Regions from separate parts of the Homo sapiens genome. Here region 2 is linked to region 1. Evidence: fine-mapped expression QTL. A gene starts in region 1. The other region holds a variant in brackets. All regions are shown on one strand. Distances are from middle to middle. Region 1 holds the start of LINC00327 (long intergenic non-protein coding RNA 327). Region 2 overlaps LINC00327 (long intergenic non-protein coding RNA 327).

What was found.
Region 2: its variant is fine-mapped to the expression of LINC00327 in left ventricle (GTEx, PIP above 0.99).

The regions. Positions count from the first base shown.
Region 1 is chr13:23,464,202-23,473,950 of GRCh38, forward strand. LINC00327 (long intergenic non-protein coding RNA 327) reads left to right here and starts at 5,311. Exons shown (of 3, transcript NR_038995.1): 1 at 5,311-5,990; 2 at 6,313-6,489. RefSeq lists a silencer at 2,092-2,371 and an enhancer at 2,482-2,641.
Region 2 is chr13:23,481,286-23,491,034 of GRCh38, forward strand. It overlaps LINC00327 (long intergenic non-protein coding RNA 327), which reads left to right. Exons shown (of 3, transcript NR_038995.1): 3 at 4,950-6,179. Among named protein-coding and RNA genes, the nearest start is that of LINC00327, 17 kb to the left of the region's middle. The variant T/A (reference allele first, on the strand shown) is at 5,525.

The DNA.
Region 1 (9,749 bases):
GGTAAAATACTAACAACTGGGGAATATGGGTGTTCTTTGTACTCTTTGTGAAGCTTTTCTGTGAACCTGAAACCGCTTTTTTTTTTTTTTTAAGGTTGAAAATGATGTCTTGGGATCCCTTGTGTACTGTTGGTAGGAATGCAAAAGTGTACAGCCACTAGGGAAAACAGTGTGGTGGTTCCTCAAAAAAATAAACATAGAATTACCATAGAGTCTTCTGGATGTATACCCAGAAGAAATGAAAGCAGACACTCCAACTAATATTGAAAATGTTTGCTTTCACACTCATGTTCACTGCAGCATTATTCACAACAGCCAAAAGGTGGAGGCAGCCCGAGTGTCCATCGATGGATGAATGGATACACAAATGCGCTATAAACAGACAATGGAATATTATTCTGCCTTAAAAAGAAAGGAACTTCTGACACGTGCTACAACATGAGTGAAACTTGAAGATGGTAAGTTAAATGAGCCAGACAGAAAAGGACGAATACTGTAGGATCCCACTTATATGAGGTACCTAAAATAGTCTAATTCATAGAGACAAAGTACAAACCATTTTTAACGTAAGATGGCTTGACTTATGGTTTTTTTACTTTACAGTGGTGAAAAATCAGTATGCATTCAGTAGCAACTGTACTTTGAGTACCCATATGATATGGTTTGAATTCTCACCTTGAATTGTAATAATCCCCACATGTCAAGGGTGGAGATAACTGAGTCATGGGGGCAGTTTCCACCATACTGTTCTCATGATAGTGAATAAGTCTCATGATATCTGATGGTTTTATAAATGGGAGTTTGCCTGCACAAGCTCTGTCTTGCCTGCCTGCCTTGCCTGCCTGCCGCCATGTAAGATGTGACTTTGCTCCTCCTTTGCCTTCTGCCATGATTGTGAGGCCTCCTCAGCCATGTGGAACTGTGAGTCAATTAAACCTCTTTCCTTTATAAATTACCCAATCTCCCATATGTCTGTATCAGCAGTGTGAGAACACACTAATACACCATAGAACCATTCTGAGCATTTACTGAGCACTTACTATTAGAGCTTCTCACTTTTAGTACAGTATTTAATACATTACGTGGGATATTTTGTACTTTATTGGAAAATAAGCCTTATGTTAGGTGATTTTGCCCAACTGTAGGCTACTGTGAGTGTTCTGAGCACGTTTAAGGTAGGCTGGGCTAAGCTGTGATGTTCAGTAGGTTAGGGGCATGGAATGCATTGTCAACTTTCTGTGGGTTTATCTGGACCTAACCCCATCATAAGTCAAGGAGCATCTGTAGAATGGTGGTTTTTCAGGAGCTAGGGGAAGGGGAATGGGAAAATGTTGTTTAATGACTGTGGAGTTTCAGTTTTACAAGATGAAAAGTGTTCTGGAGTGTGGCTGCACAATGGTGTGGATGTTCTTAACACTGCTGAAGAGGACACATACAAATGATTAAGATGGTAAATGTTTTTATGTGTATTTTTACCCCAAATACTTTTCAAAAAATATCTTGGCTATTATTTATCTCCTTATATATATGTCTTTTTTTGTTTGCTAGCATATAAATCTCTCGGAGGCAGAAAACATGTCTGAAATCTACAGCATGTAGATTTCATACAGGGCACAGTGGTTGACCAGTAATGAGTTCCTGCAGGAGGGGACCCTTCCAGTGAATGTAGACCTGGAAAATGAGATTGTCCTATTTATTCCTCTGAATATTCCCCAGCATCTATCACAGTGCTCTTTATAAAGTAAGTGCTCGGTAAACGTTCATTCGTGGTGATGCTAAGGACCGGAAGGGTCTTTAACCTTTTCTCTCCCTCCTAGCTCAGCCCTCACGGAACCCTAAAAGCTGGCTAAGGGGCCATTCTCCTCGCCACCTGGGCCTGCGTCTGCCGAATCGCTTCCTAAGGACTTTGACTAGAAACCAAAGGTCCCATTTTTCATCTGCCATTTATTTATCATTGCATAACTTAGGTAAGTCCCTCCGCCTTCACTGTCAGTTCTTCACTCATTGTTTTGCATCCAAGGAGTCTGGAAATAAGCGGGAACACCCTGCACGTGAGAGGGGCCCTGAAATTCACGAGGGGCTGGGGCTTTGCGTTTATTCCTCCAGTTCCGCCTGCAGCAACCCTGACGATCGAGCAGGGCCCGCGGGGGAGCGAGCGGAAGCGGGCAGCGTGCGCTGCTGTCCCGCTACCCAGCCCGCTAGGCTGCGCAGCTGCGTCTGCGGGCGGGGAGCCGGGGCGGCCGTGGGCTTCCTCCGGGCGCGGGCTGACGGCTGCCGCCTGTGGGCGCCCCAGCCCTGCAGCCGAGCGGGAGGGGCGGACCAGCGGGTGTCGGGAGCAGGCTGCAGCGGCCAGGCCTCTGCGGCTTCTCGGAGTACTGGGTCCACTGGAGAGCGAAGAGCCGCGGCCGCCAGGATTCCCAGCAGCGGCCGCGTGTTGAGAGCCTAGAAGTGGCCCCGAAGCCGTGCCTTTCCCGATAGCCAAGCAGAAGTAGGACTTGAAGCACCGAGGCTGGGATGCCCATGCTGGTGACGCCTTGGGGCTCGCAGTTATACTTGGTGACCGGTCTACACGGCGATTCGGTGCTTTCCGGAGTAGCAGATTCATCTATCTTTAGACCCACCTTCGTCCTTCGGCGGTTTAGCACGGCCTGCGCTTTCCTGCGAGCCCTGCTGTCACCCGAACAGCCTGATGACTTCACGCTCAACCACTGGAGGGCACAACCACATCATTTTTAAAAAATAGATTCCTCCACTTAAAGGACATGGTTTTGGGGGAAAGAACATTTAAAAAATGTAAAAAGATATATATCTATATCTATATATCTATCTCAGATTGTTCTGATATAAACTCAGGTGGGATTCTTCAAAACAGGAGGCTGTTCCAGTCTCTTCATTTTGCAGCTGAGAAAACGAAGGCCTTGGAGCTTGAGAACTCCAGTTGCCCAAGGCACACAGGTGGTGGGTAAGGAAGCTGATCATGTCTCCAAAGAATCCTTCCATGACCCAGGAGGATCCGGTGGGAGAGCAGGGCCGTCCACAGCTCAGCTAGGACACAAGAAGGCCCGGGGTGGCAGGAGCCCCACTGTGTGCTGCGGAGGATGGCAGAGGAAGTCAGCATTGTCCCGAAACTGCAGGATCATGTGATGTGATGGGAAAAAATTATGAGTACAAGACACAGGAAGAGCAGGTCACGGAAACACATGGTGCCCAGAAGGGCTTAATTAGTAGCAGCTGTGCGGGGTGATGCACAGAGTGCCCCAAGGGTGTCCTGAGTGAGGGTGGATGTCCCCTGCCCTCTGGCTTCGTGAAGGCTTCGTGAAGCCTGCCGGGTCACCCTTGTTTTCATGGATAGCTTCTTTAGGACACTCTCTCCACCAGTAATTGACAAAGTCTGCTTCTGTTGAGTGTCTGATAAAGGATTGAGTTTACATGATTGTTAAGATAGGATCATGAAAGAAGACAGAAGACGGATGTGAGTGGCCCTCAGAAAAAAAGCATCAAAGGAAACTGAGGAGTCTGTGTTCCGAGTTATAACATCAGTCCTGTGTGTAAGTGCTGAGTTTCAGCTCTGCCCAAGGCTAGGGGTTGCCTAGTCGGCTTCAACTGTAAGCTCCTAAGGGACAGTGCTGCCCCTTGAGATGACTGGGCAGCCATCAGCTTCATGCTAGAGGCTTTAAAGCAAACCCAAGATGGAGTCTCAGTACTGATTATTTGGGCCAGTGCCTTTCTTAACATTTCACGGATATATTCCTTTATTTTATTTGTTGTATTTTAGTACAGTTTTGCTCTATTCAGTCATGGTCATTCTTAGTTGCTGTTGTCTTTGTAAACTTATTTAATATCTTTTAAATATTAAAAGATTAAATAAATTATTTTCTAATAAATTCTTTTAATATTAAAATATTAATTTTTGATAAGAACCTTGTTTACTCTCAAGATTAATGTAGTAAATAAAGAAGACTAAAAACTTCAGAGACTGAAAGCTGCTGAGAATGTGTAAGAGAAACCTGGTTGTCAAACGCAATCCTGATCTTTTATCAGGCATCTGTATCAATGTGGATGATCTAACCGTGGTTAACTTCATGAAGAAGGAAGATATTTGATTTTCATCTGTTTAAAGAAACAATCTGTTTCTTCTAAAAGTATATACTCTAAAACACAAACCACTTGGCTGGGAAATAAAAGATGGTTATGCTTTATCATTTATATAAGCCTGGCCTTTCTCCAAAATGATTTTGATATAGCTTACAACAAAAAACGTGTTAGGCTTAATAAAAGAAGAATGGAAATGGAAACTAAGGATCAACAGAAAAGAGTATCACAAATACGGTAATACTAGCATATGGTAATATTATTTCTGTATTTGAGTGTAAAACGTGGCTGTGAGCTTCCTGGAGGCCAAGGCAAAAATAGAGACAAGAGCAACGTGCATAATATCATTAGCAGACAGAAAGATCATGTGACTTTTTAATTTTTTTCCCGGAAACTGAATCTAAAAAGAATCGCTCTATATAATGACTCATATATATGGTTTTAAGTGAAAAAATGATGAACACTGTCCTCCATGAGAGTTTTGGCACAAATTGAAGGAGGTAAGAACTGATATTGAAGCACAACTCAGTGAAGTTAATCCTGTCAGGCTAGGTTCACACAAGAAAACTTCTGACAAAATCCTAGAATTCCGGCAAATGCAGGCATGGAATGAGAGATTCCTATTCCATCTGCCTCGTTGTGCCTGGGGCCAGGCCTGAGTGTTGAAGACAGCTTGTTCCAATGTAAGATCAAATGAGATTGTTCATAACAGGAGTCTGCAGGAATATGGCACCTCTGATTTGAAATGATGGATGATTTTCATCAGCCGTGTATCTGCTTCCTTGGCAGCACCCCAAGTGCAGACCCCAGGCTGTTTCAGTGTGTCATCTGGCAGGCCCAAACAGAGGATGTCTCAATTGTGCATGTGTAACACAGCTTTAATTCATAATTTCATTTCTGGATGGAATTTTGAGCAGATGGGCATTGCTGTCCTTTTTAATGGTAAAAAATCAATGAAAGACACCGTGGTTTTGAAATTAATGAGCACTTGAAAAATACCAGCTTTGTTTGGCTTTGCGTTTTCTTTTTTCCTCTCCTCCTAAGTTGTTTGCAGCAAAATATTCAATTGAAAACTCAACATGTCCACTGCCTCCCAAAAAAAAAAAAAAATTCTGTGGAAAGTCTCCACTAACAGGAAGAGAGAAGTTCTTCACAGTTTGGTTTTATTTTTCAATGATAGTCATTGCCTCATTTTTAAAGCATTTATAATAAATTAAGCAAGTAACACTTGTGTACCAGTTTCTAATCAGTTTCTAATGTGCCTGGAACTTGCTGGGCTACAAAGAAAAGGATCAACTATTTTTTTTCCTGCACCCAAAGATATTGCAATCTTATCGGAGAAGGGAAACTGAGGCATGTGTTACAGTTAGAGGACTAGGAAGCACTAATCTGTGTCAGACTCCAAAGTGCAAATTCAAAGGAAAGACCATTGTTGGAGGGAGTGATCCGGAAGAATTCCTAGCCCTTACCTGTCTCAGTCATGCTTCTTGCCAAAGAAAAAGAGAAATCTCCAAGTATCTTAATGCTTTCAGCGCTTCTCCAATCTGACAAATATTTATTCAGATTCGAACTGACTGCCCAAGCTTCACTGCAGCTCCTCGTTTCCTGTTAGATCTTTTTAAAAATCTTTGCTTAAAACATTGAAGGCTGAACGATGAGCAAGAAAATCTTGCCTGTGAATAAGACACTGGGAACTGCACAGAATCAACATCAGCTCACAAGCTCATCATCTCACGCACGGATTCCTGAGCACATTCTCGCATTCTTGCTCTTAATCCTCCCTTGGCGACCTTCTACTCAGACATCATCTTTTATGCAGAGAAGCAGGCACGTTTCTCATCATTAATTCTGTTCTCAGCCAGGTGTGTAGCCACAGAGCATACAGACCACAGGATGATGTGAGTACCCCAGGATGTAAATTTGTGCGGAGTAATTACAGCTCAGGCTTCTTACACAGCTTTGGCCACATCAGGACATGAAGCTGTCTTGCAAATTGCGGGTGTGTCTAAGCTCTTAAGCACATGTGAACTTTAACGCACGTGCATTCCCTACTCACATACACAATACAAGCATGCCACACACTCACAATCCAATTGGCTAACTATGGTTATTAGCAGGAAAGAACAATTAATGGTCCTTGTGGTTACAGTTTTGTTTGAATTTTCGCCTCATCAAAAATGTAACAACCAACTAAAGCAGGCTTTCCTCCTTTTTTCCTAGTGAAAGCATATTGACTTTCCTGACTTCTTATGACCACATTTGAGGAAAGGAGTAAGCACTGGAATCACCAACACAGCATGCTTACGGAGGGTGGTCACCAGCTTCATCAGCCTCCCAATTCCACGGAGCCCCTTGAAAATCCAGGAGCGCAGACTGGCAACAGTAGAGATTTAATAGGTAAGACCTTGGGTTCAATGGACAGATCTCCTACAGTTCCTGATATCAGCCCCTATCAGAAATTATATTTTACTTTGTGTATTTCACATATTTCAAATAGAAGGGGTCAAGACTAATAGTGACCAGTCTTCATCCATTTGATAAACCTTTACTAAACACAACTGCAGCTTTGTTCTAGGCAGCATGAATGGAATGATTTACAAACTGTTGCTGCTCTTTGGGCAGTCACTGTTTTATAGGGGAACTCGAGAAGCAGTCAGGAAGGAAGGTCTCGGAGGAGATGGCCCTGAAACTGAATCAGACTTTAAAAGATAAGTTGGTCAACAGGGTTGGAGGGAGGGAGGGAAAAGAAGGTTTTGAAAGATAGATCTTTCAGAAAAAGCAAATAACTTGGGCACAGACATGGGCACAAAAAGGAAAAGAAAAGCCAGGGCATTCAGAGAATTGCAGAACATTTTGCATGACTGAGTATAGGAAGCAAGAGAGGTCTTTTGAGAAATACGACTGGAGAGGTGATGAGGGGCCAGATCTTGTGTTACACAAAGAACCTCTTATGCCACACAAAGGAATTTGGATTTTTTTTTTCCTTTTAGGCATAAGGAAGCCATTGAAGGGTTTTAAACAGGAACAATGTAATCAGATTTACTCTTTGGAAATAAGATCTCCTGGTTAGTTAATGAACTCGTATTTCTTTTTTTCTATGTTAACCATTGTTTTATTGTTTGGTCTTTAGACTCTATTATTGATTGAAATGCCAAAGTGATGGGAGTCAAGCGGCTTTGCCACTTAACCTTCCAAAGTTTGTTTCATTTGCTTTTAAAATAGTTATTATATTACGTGCTTTGCCTTATTAGTTTTGTGTACAATTAAAGCGAGATAAAGGCAGAGAAACTGGCTTGTAGTGCTATTGCTATGGACACCATTAGTTGATGTCAGAACAATTACAGATGAATCAATATTTACTATTGGACCAATTACAGACAAAACCAGAAAAGATTAGATCTAGCACAAACTTTATAAACTATTGAGCCTTTCATTTTATTTTGCATTTAAAAATCCTTACATCCGAGATTCTGAATTCTTTTATCAGGGGTGTGGCCTGTGCATTGAGAGTTTTTAAAGCTCTCCAGGTGATTTTAATATGCAATTAGATTTGAGAACCATGATTTTAGACTTAAGGGGCTTTAGAAGTAAATGTCTTTAAATTCTGTGATAATACATCATTCATAGGCTATTCAGGCTGTACTAAAACATAGAGAAAAAACAAAGACAATTATTGAGTTCATTTTATGAAGCAAGAACAATCTTAATAACAAAAGATAAAAACCTTTAAAAAGACGCGAAGCTATGATCTTTTTATGAATATAGGTGTAAAATCACAAAATATTATAAAAATATTTTAACCACATATTAAAAGAGTAGGCTAAATAGAATTTACTTTAGGAATTGAAGAATGGTTTAATATTGGGAAATTTATTATTGTAATGCCTGGGCAACAGAGCGAGACTCCGTCTCCAAAAAAAAAAAGAAAAAAGAAAATGCGAAGTTTAGTCTCAAGCTAAGACTAAATATTTGCAAATCATGTGTCTGAAAAAGGACTTGCATCAGAATAGAGAACTCTTATCACTCCATTAAAAAAAGACAATTCAAAATGTTGAGCAAAAGATATGAACAGATAATTCACCAAAGAATATATTATGATAGCAGATAAGCATATGAAAAGTTGCTCAACATTATCAGTGCTTAAAGAAATGCGAACTAAAACCATACTGAGATACTATGACACACATACTAGAATGTCTCTAATCAGAAAAACTGAAAATATTGAATTCTGGTAAAGATTTAGAGGAACTGGAATCCTTATACATTGCTGGTGAGAATGTAGAAAAGATACAGTCGCTTTGGAAAACAGTTTGTCAGTGACTCAGTAAGTTAAATACATCCACTTCTAAATATCTACACAGAGAAATGAAAATGTATGCTTAGACAAAAAACATTCAGCATTATTATTTTCCATAACCAAAACCTGGCTATTCTAGTTCAGGATGACATACTGAACATATGTGTTTACCTCGTGTCCCTCCTGAGACCCCAATGAAATGACAACGTAGAAATACAAAGAGGAATAAACTCATGCAACAAAAAAAGCATGGAAGGGTATCAGTAGACAAGAAATTTCAACACATTTCCAGAGGACAAAAAGCTGATGTACAAGCTTGGCGCAGTGGCTCACGCCTATAATCCCAGCACTTTGGGAGGCCAAGGTGGGTTGATCGCCTGAGGTTAGGAGTTCGAGACCAGCCTGACCAATGTGGTAAAACCCCATCTCTACTAAAAATACAAAAATTAGCCGGGCGTGATGGGGTGTGCCTGTAGTCCCAGCTACTCGGGGGGCCGAGGCAGGAGAATTGCTTGAACCCAGGAGGCGGAGGTTGCAGTGAGTCGAGATCGCGCCACTGTACTCCGGCCTGGATGACAGAGCAATACTCTGTCTCAAAAATAAAATAAAATAAAATAAAATAAAATAAAATAAAATAAGAAAGCTAATGTACAGGCAAGCGAAGGATGCTGAAGCCCAGAATATAATCGTTGTTGGAGGCTCTGTAAGAAGGAGCCAGCCTCCTCTATTGGAGACCTGAAAGAGAAGGAGCGAAGCAAAGGGAATGATGGAATATGTACACCACTATGTCACAGCCCTGCCAGTCACCCCTCCCTTTCCCACCCTTCCAGAGCATCTGGAAGGTCAACATTGTCACTGTTACAAAAGATAAAGAATGAAGGAATTTCACACATTTACCTAGGAAGATGTAAATCTTCTGTTGTAGATAATTTATTACAGAGTACTCCGTCCACATCCAGGTGCCCCACACAAGTGCTTCGCAAAGCATCTGTGGTGAAGGACCAGCTTTTGTGTTAAAATTTCAAATCCATTGCAGAAGGTTACTTTTTAAAATATAGTAGAAATAAATTACTAGAAAAATAAAATTTAAAAAGCAAAGGCACACAAAATACAAGCCCAAATGTTTTATTACCAGACTCAAGAGACAAAAGATTATATTTCTTTTTTTTTTTTTTGAGATGGAGTCTCGTTCTGTCACCCAGGCTGGAGCGCAGTGGCACCATCTCAGCTCACTGCAGGCTCTGCCTCCCAGATTCATGCCATTCTCCTGCCTCAGCCTCCTGAATAGCTGGGACTACAGGCGCCCTCCACCAAGCCCGGCTAATTTTTTGTATTTTTAGTAGAGACAGGGTTTCACCGT
Region 2 (9,749 bases), 17 kb after region 1:
ATGGTTCCTCCATTGCTCTGTCTCTCCCTCACTCTCCTGCTGCCCTGTGAAGAAGGTGCCTGCTTCCCCTTCTGCCATGATTCTAAGTTTCCTGAGGCCTCCCCAGCCATGTGGAATTGTGAGTCAATAAAACCTCCTTTGTTTGTAAATTACCCAGTCTCAAGTTGTATCTTTATAGCACTGTGAAAATGGACAAATACATCATTCTTTGCTTCAGTTCTTCAGACATAGTTTCCTTTAACTCTTTGAACATATGTTTAAATAGCTAATTTTACTCTCTGTCTAGTAAGCACAACATTTGGGCCTCTTAGGGCCAACTTCTATCAATTGCTTTCCGTGTGTGTGTATGGGACATAATTTTATGTTTCTTTGCATGTCTCACAATTTTATGTTGAAATTTTGACATTTAAAAAAATATAATATTACAAGTCTGAAAATCATATTCTTCCCTGCTGAATTGTGTTGTTGCTCCTTGCTTTTAAATGTTGTTTTTATTTATTTCATGGCTTTTCTGAACTAATTCTATAAAGTATGTATTGTTTATTATATGTGGTCATGGGAGTTATCAATTAGCTTAGTGATTGGACATCTAATGATTGAACAGAGATTTCTTTAAATGCTGGAACCAATAAACCTCTAAATCTTTGCCATGGGTTACTATATACATGTTGGATCATACCTTTAACACTCCACCAGGCAGTTCACAATGCTGTTTTAGCCTTTACTTTCTGCTTGTGCAGAACCTTAAGGTCACCAAGAAGTGAGAGCTCAGGCCTCCTCAGCTCTTTCTTCAGAATGCCCACAGGCCTACATATGCCCCTGACCTTCCAAATTCTCAGGAATATGTCAGAGCATTTCAAAGCTCCTATGGACATCTTATTCCACAGCTTTTCCCTTTAATCTTCTTGGTTAGTCTATTGTTTGCACTATCATCCATCTCATGCAGCCTGATAGTTAAAAGACGTGCCTAAAATTATTTTCAATAAATGCCTCTTAACCCCTGGGAGAGACTTTTTACACTTGGCAAGTTCAAACCACATCAAGTAAAAATGTACCTTTTCAGTGGAGCCTTCTAAGGATGGATCAAACAATGTCAGTTCTTTGGGACTGAGGCTTTGAATGAGCTCCAGCTCTGTTCTGATCCTTTAATACTGGAATGCAGTTGTTATTTTTCTAGGCTATTGCTGAGCTGAAGAGTGGGAGATGGGCCTAAGGTAAGTTTCAAATGTTGTAAAGATTACAGTTCTTACCAAGATTCAGATATTTTTCTTGAATAAATGCTCCCTGGATGGCTGAAAGTCTTTGGTTAATGCCAAGAGAGTTGAAAAAATGGATTCTGCTTTTCTTTGCCAGTTTTTTCATTACTGTTACGAAGGAACAAAATTTTGGATGTTCTTAATCTGCCATTTTTACTACTGTCACCTATTTTAATGTTGTGTTTTTATAATCTACACTGTACAAAACTAGCCTCACAGAATTATGTTGATAAGGTGGAAGAAGAGATTTTTAAAACATTTTATTAAGCTCAGAATATTCATTTTTAAACTTTCATTCAAAGTAATGTAAATGATACTATATTTCTAAATTCATCTTCTACTGTTCATTAGTAGTCAGATTCAATAATTTATCCATAAATTATAGTTAAGTTTAAATTATCTTTTGATGAAAGAAATGGATTCTGGATCCATGAATTTCCTATATGTTGTCTTCTCCTGATAGAAAACAAAAATTCACAATCTTTTATCAAATTTAAAGATGTTTGGTGATACATTTTGACAGTGTAATATCAATATCATCACCAACTCTGCTGTCAATAAACTATGGAGCATGTCACAATAACTTACAGAAAGTCTGTTCTTTCAAGCATCCAAGTTTCATTTTGTGCTTTAATTTCATGTGGCATTAGAAAACATGTTGCCTTCCTTCCTTGCATAGGAGTGTGAGCCTCAGAAATTTGAGACTGAGACCTGTCTCAAATTTCTGAGGCTGAGGAAGGAGAATCGCTTGAACCCAGGAGGCGGAGGTTTCAGTGAGCCAAGATCGCATCACTGCACTCCAGCCTGGGTGACAGAGTGATAGATACCCTTTCTCAAAAAAAAAATTTGATATGGGCCACATTACTCTGAAGTCCATACATTAGTAGGCAGGCATGAAAGTGCCTTATGTATGTAAACAGGTTACTGTTATTTTCTGCCGAAGTTTAAGTTGTCTGTCTTCAGCTTGCAGGGTTTTTTTTTTTTTTTTTTTTTTTTTTTTTTTTGAGACGGAGTCTCGCTCTGTCGCCCAGGCCGGACTGCGGACTGCAGTGGCGCAATCTCGGCTCACTGCAAGCTCCGCTTCCCGGGTTCACGCCATTCTCCTGCCTCAGCCTCCCGAGTAGCTGGGACTACAGGCGCCTGCCACCGCGCCCGGCTAATTTTTTTGTATTTTTAGTAGAGACGGGGTTTCACCTTGTTAGCCAGGATGGTCTCGATCTCCTGACCTCGTGATCCACCCGCCTCGGCCTCCCAAAGTGCTGGGATTACAGGCGTGAGCCACCGCGCCCGGCCAGCTTGCAGGGTTTTAAAGAAGAACAACTTAGTTTTCAGTGACTTCAAATTAGGAAAAATGAAAAAGAGACGGAAAAAAATTGAAAACATTATTTTGAAGACTTGTAGCCAAGAAAAATTAGAATTTGGTCCAAACTGTAGAAAATAATAAAAATTGGAAAAAAACATTAGGCAAGACTAGAATCTAACAACAGATATATAATCATTTTGAAATAATTTTTTTCTCTCTCCAGTTCCCCATTTTACTAAAGATAAATCATGGTAGGGCTGGTTTGGTTATTATACTTGGCCTAAGTATTTGTATGCAGTGCAGCAAAAATAATTATTATTTTTACATAGGCTTTTAAATTGGCTTTGATGGAACTTTGTTCCATAAGAGGAATCTCAGATAAGACTTCTTAAAGCCCAGCCCAGCCATGGATTGTGCTATCAAATACCCATGAGTTGGGTGAAATTTCCTGCTGTCAGGGTTTCAAGATAAACCTGGGACTTCTGTGCCTGTCAGTAAGTGACATTCTTTACTTACCATGGGTCAGAAACCCTATACAGTGTGTACACAAAATATGAGGCTAATTTTTCCAAGGTCTTATTGGCTCTATAAGTCAAGTTTGATTCCTTAAAGGAAAGCACACCATTCCAGTCAAAGCCTTGGTAAAAGAACCAATTTCTCCAATTGCATCCTGTTAAAATGAAAACAGATTCTTATTGCACTTATGCAAATAACTGTGTTGCTGTAAGTTAAGAATACTCGCAAGTACTTTACAATTCTGGAGAAATCAGGTAGAGAGAAACAAATGTGTTCCAAATTTTGTTCACAGGAGTGTACTAAATTGTTAAAGCTGTCAATAGCTCAAAAGAAAAGTTTTTAAGACCTTGAAAAACAAAAGAAAGGATCAGCAAACAAATTCAGAAAAAAGTCAGGCAGGGTGCAGTGGCACACTTCTGTAATCCCAGCACTTTGGGAGGCCAAGGCAGGTGGATCACCTGAGGTCAGGAGTTCGAGACTAGCCTGACCAACATGGCAAAACCCAATCTCTACTGAAAATACAAAAATTAGCTGGGTGTGGTGGCGCATGCCTATAATCCCAGCTAGTTGGGAGGCTGAGTCAGGAGAATCGCTTGAACCCAGGAGGTGGAGGTTGCAGTGAGCCAAGATTATGCCACTGCACTCCACCTACATGATGGGAGCGAGACTCCATCTCAAAAAAAAAAAAGAAAGGAAAAGAAAAGAAAAAAAAGAAAGTAAACAGAGCAAGTGACCTTGAAGAGAAGAAAAAGAAAAAAACCAGAAAAAGAAAAATATTCAGATAACAGATGAGAATTTTTTTTTTTTGAGACGTAGTCTCAGTCTGTTGTCGAGGCTGGAGTGCAATGGCGTGATTTCCGCTCGCTGCAATCTCCACCTCCCAGGTTCAAGTGATTCTCAGGCCTTAGCCTCCCGAGTAGCTGAGATTACAGGTGCCTGCCACCATGCCCAGCTAATTTTTGTATTTTTAGTAGAGATGGGGTTTTGCCATGTTGGCCAAGCTGGTCTCAAACTCCTGACCTCAAGTGATCCGCCCACCTTGACCTCCCAAAGTGCTGGGATTACAGGCATGAGCCACCTCCCAGCCCCCCATAAAGTAATTCTTTAAAAGAAAATTGAATTGAGTCATTAGAGATGACAAAGGAGAATTTAAATAATTTATCTGATTCAAGTAATTTTTCATTTAAAACATAAAAACCAGGACAGAATGTCTTGAAAAGAGATCAGAGAACAGAAAAATTGTTTGGAAATGAAAAATATGATTGCTTCCCCCCAAAAAATCTTTCAAAGAAATTATTTTAAAATTGATAAAAAATAACTTATACAAGGTGAAAAAGTATATTTCCTGAGTGAGATAGGAAAATATTTTTTAAAAACTACAAGAAAGAAGTAATCCAGGATATCTAATATTAGACCAGCAAGAGTTTTTAAAAGAGAGAGCAGTGAAATGAAGGGAAATCATCTGTGCGTCTGTGTGTGATTTTTGTAAAATCATTTTTTAAAAACTTTTCTCAGAACTAAAAATGTTATGTCTTGAGGTTGAATTCCAAGCAGGATAAAAATAAAGAAGCCTGAAATGCATCTTTGTGAAACTTCAGAACAGTAACTAACAATAAATGGAAGATCCTAAAAATCTTACAAAGGCAAAAAACAGCCCAGCAGCTAAGGAGCAGGAGCTAGACTGCAGCAGAGTTTTCTTATCAGCAGCACAAAATGTTAGAAAACATTGAAGCAATACCCTCCAATTCAGAGGGAAAACAATTTTGAAAGTTCAATAATAGGTGTAGACAAACAATAAATGATGAAAGAGAAAATAATACATTTGATGCGATACTGGAAATTCACCTCTCTCATACCTTTCTTCCCCTCCCCAGGAGTTTACTGGAGGTTATACTCCAGTCAAAGAAGATGGAAACCAAGAAAGGACACATTTTGGAGATTAGCACTGGCTCCAGGAACCCAGTGAACAGAAGACTCAGGCTGAAGGCTTGTGCATTCAGCCCAGAGAAAATCCACTTAAATTCAGAACAATTAAGGACTCTGGGGAAGAAGGACTTCACATGGTAGTGTGATTGGAAGGCAGATAAATTTTAGGACACAATGGAAGTTCCTAAGATTTTTTATCCTTTTCCAATAGGAAGGATAAAAAAATCATCTAAAACTAGAGGAAAAATCATCTAAAACAAGGTATAAAGAAATGGCTCACGTGTGACCCTTATTTTACTGTGACATGGAGCATTTGATGAAGGATGTGGGAAGGGAGCCTGCTTAACTATGAAGTGAGTAGCATCGCCCCAGGAGCACCATGACAGATGCACAGGACATGGAGGGAAGGAAATGGCATCCTGGCACAGCCCTGGCTCTACATTGAGCAATGTAGACAAAATCATAAAGGCTGCTCTAGTTTTCTACTTTTAGAATCAACCTACAGACATGTAAGACTTAATTG[T/A]AGTTGTAGAATAAAAGATAAAAGATTATTGGCTTTCATAACAATAAAGTCCTAACAATGATTCACAGTTATTCCATGAATAAGGGTAGGGGAAAAGAGGGAGGAATGTAAGGCATTTTATATGGAGCAAGGGAGGCAAAAGACGTTGACAGAGGCTTATGGAACAACACACACACGCACACAAATAGAAGGAATATATTGCTTAAAATGACAAAAATAGCCAACATAGGCTGGGTGCGGTGGCTCATGCCTGTAATCCCAGCACTTTGGGAGGCTGAGGCGGACGGATCACTTGAAGCCAGGAGTTCAAGACCAGCCTGGCCAACATGGTGAAACCCCGTCTCTACTAAAAATACAAAAATTGACTGGGCGCAGTGGTGTGCATCTGTAGTTCCAACTACTTGGGAGGCTGAGGCAGGAGAATCACTTGAATCCGGGAGGCGGAGGTTGCAGTGAGCCGAGATCACGCCACTGCATCCTAGCCTGGGTGACAGAGTGAGACCGTCTGAAAAAGAAAAAAGCCAACATAGGAATTTTTAAAATAATATATAATTACCAAAAATTGGGGAAAATAGAGACAGGGAAGGCAGTTCTATAAGCGAGATAAATCTTTATCTTTTGTATCAGAAAGTCAATAAATATTGTCTGAATTTGATTGGTTATTTCCATTTTTATGAAATGTCTACAATAGGCAAATCTATAGAACCAGTAAAGAAATTAGGAATTCCTGTGGCTGGGACTGAAGAGTGAAATCACTGCAAGTGGTCAAGAGGGATCTTCTGAAGTGATAGGTGTGTTCTAAAATTGGGCTGTGGGGATGCTTGCACAACTCTGTAACTTTGCTAAAATTCATTTCATTACACATTTAGTGAGTTTTATGATATGTACATTACCCATCAATAAAGCTGTGTTAAAAAAAAGGCTGATTTTTTAGGCTGGGCGCAGTGGCTCACGCCTGCAATCCCAGCACTTTGGGAGGCCAAGGCGGGGGGATCACAAGGTCAGGAGATCAAGACCATCCTGGCTAACATGGTGAAACCCCGTCTCTACTAAAAATACAAAAAATTAGCCGGGTGTGGTGGCGGGCACCTGTAATCCCAGCTACTTGGGAGGCTGAGGCAGGAGAATGGCGTGAACCCGGGAGGCAGAGCTTGCAGTGAGCGGAGATCATGCCATTGCACTCCAGCCTGGGTGACAGAATGAGACTCTGTCTCAAAAAAAAAAAAAGGCTAATTTTTAAAAAGGTCAAAGAAGAGATGTGAAAATATATTATTTAGAGTTCTGTAGGCAACCAACAGGAATAAAAGTAGAAATGTTTTCTGGGATGATCTAGGAGTTGCTAGGGTGAGGAAGTGTGAAATGGAGGCAGCTGTTTATCAGTTATGTTTTTATCAGTTTATCAGTTCTGTTTTTCTATACTATTTCCATTTTGTTTATCAATGCATGTATTACCTCAGTTCATTATTAGAGATTTTTTAAAACTTTAGATTTCTTAATGCAGAAAAAAATGTTTCTTGTTTTTAATCTTTTAGAATTTAAATATGAGTAATGATGGCATGTGAGTAAATGAATAGAATTTATTTTTTCTCCTAAAGACCAAGGCCAAGGGGCAAACTCTCTTACAAACCACCGCTCATAACTTGATGTGGACAAGAGCTCAACTGGGCATCGCCAAAAGTCCATGCCACTCCCAAAATAGAATGGAGGCAAGGAGACTAAGCAACTGATCTTTCTGGGAATGACATTTGGTGCAGCTGTGTTAAGCGGTTGCCATGGACTAATACAGAAAACATAAATAATCTCAGAGAAGCAAGTGCCCGAGAAAAACGAGATGACACAGGAAGTTGCTAATGTTATCAGCTGTCTTCATCTGTTTATATAAGAACGCTGCCAAAGTAACCATCTATGTGCCCAGGTTTTAAGCCGCATGACACAACCTCTTTACCCTGAGGTGAGAGTGACATGGTGGCCAATGAGAGGCCATCACTGTGGAAAACACATATTAAGACTTTTTGAGATATGAAGTAATGGGATAGATCATGAGGACTTGAGGCTACAAGCTGACGACCTTGCAGTTGGTTCAAAGAGCTTGGGGACTTTTCAGTGTAATTTTGCTAGGTGACGAATCGGAAGCTTTCACACCTGCATTCCCTTTCTTTTTTTCTTATTTATTTATTTATTTATTTGAGACGGAGTGGTGCCCTGTTGCCCAGGCTGGAGTGCAGTGGCGCAATCTCAGCTCACAGCAACCTCCACCTCCCAAGTTCAAGCAATTCTCCTGCCTCAGCCTCCCAGTAGCTGGGATTACAGGCTCCCGCCACCACGCCTGGCTAATTTATTACTATTATTATTATTATTATTATTATTATTATTATTTTTGGTAGGGACAGGGTTTCCACATGTTGGCCAGACTAGTCTTGAACTCCTGACCTCAGGTGATCCACCCACCTCGGCCTCCCAAAGTGCTGAGATTACAGGCGTAAGCCACTGCGCCCAGCATTCCCTTTCACATAAAATGCTACGTGAATGGTGGTAATAAAACAGTCAGAGCGATTCCATGCAACCCAACAGATAACGTGGTTTGTGCATTTTTTCTATCCATGAGGGAATGAGAAAGGCTATTCCTGCCTTTCCGTCAATTCCATTCAACCAAATATTTCCCATTTTAACGTGAAATCAGACCTCTCATGGGTTGGTCTGTTGTTGGAGTGACCACACTCACTTACTCCACTTGCTCCGAGGTTCCTCTCATTACCTGAACATGCACACGGGGCCCAGCAGGCACTGAGGAAAAGGTTGAGTGGCACTTGTCATCTGCATGCCTCCCAGGTGGGTCCTGCTCAGGGAGGAGTGTCCAATAACCTTGGTGACAGCCACAGCCTGGCAAGATTCATGCCGCAGACAACACGGTGCCCGAATCCCTTCCTTATAATTCCCCAGGCATGGGGTTAGTAGACAAAGCCAGTGAAGCTGATAAGAGAAGCAACATGTAAAAGGGGAGGGCACCACGTTGTCCCCTAAGACAAGAATGGAAATGGTTTAATGAGTTTGTTACTTACTATCTACATGATGTTAAAACCAATCCAGGCAGGGCAAAATAGGTCAGAGCCTTTTCACAAAGCCAGTACTTTGTGTAGTGAGATTTTAAAGACATTACCCTGTCAGTGAGAGAGAGAGAGCTACAGTTAGACAAACATGATAAGACAAAGAGCTAAATATAAAATAAAAAATGCAGATGTGAAATCATATTTGCAAGTCTTTCTTTTGCTGTCAGTAGTTGGTAATTGGTTGTAGCCACCCAGATGCGAGTCAGATACATACAACCGTAAGTACCACTTAAAATTTCAGTGGCTAAAGAATCTTGCCAGAAAGAATTTTTTAGTCAAAATTCCTAAACATTTCTCATTGTGCCAAAACGTACATATTTGCTTATAATATATCAAAATAAAAATGAGAATTTCCTTCATTTCTGGTGTTGTGAAAAGTTCCTGATAGATATCTCATGGAGACCAGGTTCCAAGAGCATTTCCTGTGGCCTTACTGCAGACAGCAGATCATTTCAGCCTCCACTCAGGCGAATGCTTAGTGGCTGGGAGTGTGCACGCTCTGGTTCAAGTGCAGTGAGGGTGGGGTACTAGACTCACCACTTCCTAGCTGTGGGGTGTTACTCCAGGCCTTTAAACTTTTATCAGAAACTCAAGCCTTCAAGCTTTCATCTCTTCCATCTCTGCACCTCACAGGACTACCATGAGCTTAAATGAGAGCACACATAAAATATGGTAAGAAACGGGTATGATTATTTTTCCTATTTTATAATTGAAGGCACTGAGGCCAAGAGAAGTGAAGTGGCTCCAAGTCACAAAGCCTTGGGTCACAAAGCTGGGATCTGAAGGCAGACTGTCAATAGTAAGGTTGTTATACACAGTAAATGAGTTAATTCATGGAAAGCTCTTAGGAAAGCCTTGGTTATGAGAAAGCTCTCAATAGAGATTAGCTGTTTTATTATGACTTCATTCGCTTTCACGCTATTTAAGCCTTTTCCTTTATTTCACTTCAAAAATGAGGGCTTGGTGGGGCTGGGCGCAGCGGCTCATGCCCGTAATCCCAGCACTTTGGGAGGCCGAGGCGGGTGGATCATGAGGTCAGGAGATTGAGACCCTCCTGGCTAACATGGTGAAACCCAGTCTCTACTAAAAATACAAAAAATTAGCCGGGCATGGTGGCA